2 separate regions of the Homo sapiens genome follow, and region 1 is linked to region 2. The links come from fine-mapping of genetic effects on gene expression. A gene starts in region 2. The other region holds a variant in brackets. All regions are shown on one strand. Distances are from middle to middle.

Evidence for each region. PIP is the estimated chance that this variant, and not a neighbour inherited with it, causes the effect.
Region 1: its variant is fine-mapped to the expression of C2orf80 in cerebral cortex (GTEx, PIP 0.97). The same link has a PIP of 0.9 or more in prefrontal cortex.

What each region holds. Positions count from the first base shown.
Region 1 is chr2:208,166,827-208,169,742 of GRCh38, forward strand. The region is part of intron 8 of C2orf80 (chromosome 2 open reading frame 80); the gene reads right to left. Among named protein-coding and RNA genes, the nearest start is that of CRYGA, 4.7 kb to the left of the region's middle. The variant C/T (reference allele first, on the strand shown) is at 1,588.
Region 2 is chr2:208,188,438-208,191,353 of GRCh38, forward strand. C2orf80 (chromosome 2 open reading frame 80) reads right to left here and starts at 1,593. Exons shown (of 9, transcript NM_001099334.3): 1 at 1,516-1,593.

The DNA.
Region 1 (2,916 bases), 22 kb before region 2:
TTTTTAGTAGAGATGGGGTTTCACCATGTTAGCCAGGATGGTCTTGATCTCCTGACCTCGTGATCCGCCCGCCTCGGCTTCCCAAAGTGCTGGGATTACAGGCGTGAGCCACCATGCCTGGCCTGTCCTGACACTTTTCTAAGCCTTTACACATATAACTTATTTAATGCTTATAACAACCCTATGAGGTAGGTACTATTATGACTTTTTAAAGAGATGAAAAACTAAAAGCACAGAGAGATTAGGTAACTCACTCAAGTTATTAAGTGGGTAGCCTGGATTCAAGAAGTATGCTGTATTCTAGCTCTTTAGTATGGTCGTGTTCATTCCAAATTTACTTCCTAGTAATGTGCCCACTACTGACGCTTTCCTAGGACAATGCAATTTAAAAAAAAAATCTTTAAAACTGTTTCCTAGCCGGGCGCGGTGGCTCATGCCTGTAATTCCAGCACTTTGGGAGGCTGAGGTGGGTGGATCACGAGGTCAGGAGTTCAAGACCAGGCTGACCAACATGGTGAAACCTCATCTTTACTAAAAATACAAAAATTAGCCAGGTGTGGTGGTGCACACCTGTAATCCCAGCTACTCAGGAGACTGAGACAGGAGAATCGCTTAAACCCGGGAAGCAGAGGTTGCAGTGAGCCGAGATAACACCACTGCACTCCAGCCTGGGCAACAAAGCAAGACTCTGTCTCAAAAAAAACAAAAAACAAACAAACAAAAAACTGTTTCCCAGAACACTGAGGGTTTTGTTTGTTTGTTTGTTCTGAGACAGAGTCTCGCTCTGTTGCCCAGGCTGGAGTGCGCTGGTGCAATCTCGGCTTAGTACAACCTCTGCCTCCTGGGTTCAAGCAATTCTCATGCCTCAGTCTCCCTAGTAGCTGGGATTATAGGCGTGCACCACCACACCCAGCTAATTTTTGTATTTTTAGTAGAGATGGGGTTTGCCATGTTGTTCAGGCTGGTCTTGAATGCCTGACCTCAAGTAATCTGCTCTCCTTGGCCTCCCAAAGTGCTGGAATTATAGGCATGAGCCATCGTGCCTGGCTGTGATTTTTTTTTTTTTAATAATTTCCTCTTTTCTCTTACTCTATGAAGAAATTCGGTGGCTGGAAATAAATAAAAAATTCTGAATAAGGCATTGTTTTATCTTGAGGTTAAAAAAATTGTTCTTCAGCTAAAAGACATATAATATCTGCAAGCCAAAAAGGAAAAACAGTAAGCTCAAATATTTAAAATGAAAATCTTCTTCAAATACCAAGCTGTGAAAGCATGTTTTTCATCCATTTAATAAAATACTTATTCCTTTAATATAGAAAGAATTCTAACAAACCAGTGAGACATACATATATGTATGTTTATATGTATATGTGTAGCAAATAATTAAATACCATAAGAAATATTAACAGTGGTTATTTCTGAAAAGTGGGACAGGGGTGTGAAGAAGAGGGAGTTCTTTTGCTTTTCATTTTATATTTTTTGTCTGGCTTGAAAATTTTACTTATAAGTGTGTACACTATTAAAATTTTTAAAACTAGTTTAAAAGATACATTACCCAAGAGTTGGGCCGGGCGCGGTGGCTCAAGC[C/T]TGTAATCCCAGCGCTTTGGGAGGCCAAGGCGGGCAGATCGCGAGGTCAGGAGATCGAGACCACGGTGAAACCCCGTCTCTACTAAAAATACAAAAAATTAGCCGGGCGTGGTGGCGGGCGCCTGTAGTCCCAGCTACTCGGGAGGCTGAGGCAGGAGAATGGCGTGAACCCGGGAGGCGGAGCTTGCAGTGAGCCAAGATTGCGCCACTGCACTCCAGCCTGGGCGACAGAGCAAGACTCCGTCTCAAAAAAAAAAAAAAAAAAGAGTTGGAAAAAATGCCTAAAGTGCACAAATAATAAAGTGTGAAAGAAAAAACACAAACGAGTTTTCTGTCGCTTGATTATTAAGAAAGGGCTTTTCTGGAAGGGATTCATCTCAGGACCTGGGGCCCTACTAAAACATGGGCATTTGTTCTTTCGACACTCCTGGGCTCGCAAGCATCAATCAGCCTATAGAAAGGTCTGGTCCCCAGAACTGAGCCTTTGATCACTATAGACAGGGCACAGAGATTTGAGAACCGTCACCTAAGGACTATTCGCTTACTACCTACTGCCAATTCACTAAATAAAAATTGTTACTGAATCTCTGCTGCCTGCGAAGTACTTTATATACATGTGAGAAATACTAAGGAAATAAAAGATATGCTTCCATCAAGAATCAAAAAATCTTCATTGGTTGTGGAAGAAAATATATATGGAACAAAATTATATTTAAAAATAAGATACCAATGAGTAATCTTTAGAGGTAGGTTTTCCTTACATAGGGTCCATTGATGAGGCTTGCGGGGGGTGTCTATAAACCCCTGTTTCAGAGATCTTTTTGTGTGTGTGTGTGATTAAGTTTAAAGTCTAGATTGTGTGTGTGTGTGTGTGTGTGTGTGATTTTTGGAGTTGTTACTGTTTTTTCATTGTTGTTTTGTTTTGCTCTCTAAAACTTGCTGCTTCCAAACACGTATAAAAAATGACCTCATTTTTCAAATTCTTCAAAAAATTCTTCAGAAACAAAGATATGGTTCTAGAAAGTCTAATACCTTCGGCCGGGCACAGTGGCTCACGCCTGTAATCCCAGCACTTTGGGGGGCTGAGGCAGGAGTTTGAGACCAGCCTGGACAACATGGTGAAACCCCACCTCTACTGAAAATACAAAAATTAGCCGGGTGTGGTGGTGCATACCTGTAATCCCAGCTACTCGGGAGGCTGAGGCAGGAGAATCGCTTGAACTCGGGAAGTGGAGGTTGCAGTAAGCTGAGATTGTGCCATTGCACTCGAGTGTGGGTGACAGAGTGAGACTCTGTCTCAAAAAAAAAAAAAAAAGGAAAAGAAAAAAA
Region 2 (2,916 bases):
ATTATTTTGGATTTTTTTTTTTTTTTTGAGACGGAGTCTCGGTCTGTCACCAGGCTGGAGTGCAGTGGCACAATTTCGGTTCACTGCAACCTCTGCCTCCTGGGTTCAAGTGATTCTCCTGCCTCAGCCTCCCAAGTAGCTGGGACTACAGGTGCACGCCACCAAGCCCAGCTAATTGTTTTGTACTTTTAGTAGAGACCGGGTGGTGTCATCATATTGGCCAGGATGGTCTCCATCTCCTGACCTTGTAATCCACCTGCCTCAGCCTCCCAAAGTGCTGGGATTACAGGCGTGAGCCACCGTGCCCAGCCATTTTGGATCATTCTTGCTGCTGCTACATCTGCTTTAGTTTTTGGGGAGTGGACGGGATGTGGATAAGATGAAAGTGGGGAAGAAAGTAAGAGCATTTCACAGGAAATTGATTAAGTATCAAGACAATAATATTGCTCCCTACAGAGTCAATGGGGAGAGGATGCAGCAAGCCATAGAGGTGGCCCTATTGCCTAGAGAAGAGAGAGCACTGGACCCAGGAAAGCCACACTCATTGATGTGGCTGTGCGTCTTCTGCTTCCCAGCCTCAGGTGTTATCCGAAAAAGATGGGCCTGGTTAACATTGCCAAGAGCACTTCTTACCCTAACATTCTGTAACTCTATAAAGTCTGGCATGCATTAAAATTCTTCTGATTCAATAGTTTGGAAAAACATTTGTTGCTAGACTATTTGGCCTATCTCAATTCCTTGGCAGGGAGTAAGGCACAGTTAGCATGTGCTTTAATCCATTCTTGTCTTGTAATTCTGAGAAAGCCCTTTGAGTTTCAGATTTACAAGTTATAATATTTGCATTGCTTCGTTGTTATGACAGCTTCGTCTTAGATCATCCCTCATCCTCCCCATCCCCTGCCCCCACCACCACCATTCAATATGGTATAATATGCAAAGGTTTCAGTCTTTAAAATATGAGTATGTCCCACTCCCAAACCACTAAACTGTAGGTCAGAAGACCCTGTGAGGCCACCAACTAGCTGTGCACCTTGAACAAATTAATTTGCCTATGTTTTTTCATTTCTTCCTCTGTAAAACAAGCGTTGAATGATTGGAGAGGTCCCTTACAGCTGTGGAAGTCAGTGATTTATATGCATTTAGTAGCTACGCCTGGTCTAAAGAAGGCCATTTGCATGGATTCTAATTCAGCTAGATTTGAATTCTGCCAGTTATCCCTCTTCTCTGTCTATAGAGCTCTAAAGAAAACAAGACCGCTGTGTGTTTTGTGTGTGGCTGAAAGCACACACAAAAGAGGTACTGGAAAGATGTCAGCTGTCTCAGGCTTTAGCTGTTTCATAGAAACAATTCCCTAGAAGTCAGAGCCCCCAAATTCTATAGGAATATCATTTCCTGGAGAATATCTGCACATTCCATGCAGGTTCCCTGCTGCACACCTGCAATCGTGGTACAGGTCTCTCGGGCTGTTCTATTAAGTGCCTGCTCTTAACAAATTCCCCTTTGAGAATCGCTCACCAACCGGAGACCGGTTCCAGTGCTTTTGTTCTTTCTCTGCTTCTGGAGGCATGCTGAAGCATCCGCGCATCTCAGACTGGTGCTCACAGACATCAGGAACACATGCTTTTTCCTGGTTGCTAGGAAACAGTGAATGAATTAAAATCATTTGTTTTAAAAATACACTCCCCTACGCCCACCCCCATTAAGGGTTGAGGGAGGGTGGAAAGTCATATATTTGGGACAGGATTGTGATCCTGGCCTGAAGTTCACGTGTCTTTTTACCTGAGTAGGCTTATGTTTCCCATCTAAATGATTAATTGAAAAACCAAGAGGATGGGAGGAGTTTACCTTCCCCAGAGTTTTTTATAGCATTTGGCTGCAGACATAGGAATCAATTGACTAAGCAAGGATTGCTGGGGAAGCTAGTGAAACTCTGGCTCCTACATAGTTAGGGTGCCCCAAAGTACCCAATGACCCAAAGATCATTCTACTCGATGAATGTCAATACAAAACAGTGGCAATCCTGAAGAAACATCACCTGGGTTCAAGCTAGCACCATCTTTCTAATTATAGATGAGATCCCTTTCATGTGCGTCTGTGTGAAGAGACCACCAAACAGGCTTTGTGTGAGCAACATGGCTGTTTATTTCAACTGGGTGCAGGCGGGCTGAGTCCGAAAAGAGAGTCAGCAAAGGGTGGTGGATTATCATTAGTTCTTATAGGTTTTGGGATAGGCGGTGGAGTTAGGAGCAATGTTTTGTGGGCAGGGGGTGGATCTCACAAACTACATGCTCAAGGGTGGGGAGAATTACAAAGAACCTTCTTAAAGGTGGGGGAGATTACAAAGTACCTGCTTAAGCGGGGGGAGATTACAAAGCACATTGATCAGTTAGGGTGGGGAAGAAACAAATCACAATGGTGGAATGTCATCACTTAAGACTATTTTTACTTCTTTTGTGGATCTTCAGTTACTTTAGGCCATCTGGATGTATATGTGCAAGTCACAGGGGATGTGATGGCTTGGCTTGGGCTCAGAGGCCTGACAATCCCTGCCCACACGCCTGCCTCCTAGTCTTAAACACTTGCTCCCTTGCTTAAAGCTTGTTAATGGTTTCTGTCTGTGTCTCCTCTATACCACTAGACTAGGGGCAGAGTTTGTTCTTCTGGCCCATCTACGGCTGGGTGTCTGTTATTGACACCTCTTAATCTTTATTTCCACTCCTTTCCACTGGCCAAGTAAGTCACTTGATTACCTGAGGTCATATTATGAAAGACACTAACAAAACCCTAGATATAGAATTTTCTAAACTAGTTGTTCACTCCATATTGAGTTTATATTGTACCTAGACACTTCCGGGTTTGGTGAGCCTGAAGTTTATACATTATGGGGACCGTCTTTAATAAAAAGAATGCAGAATT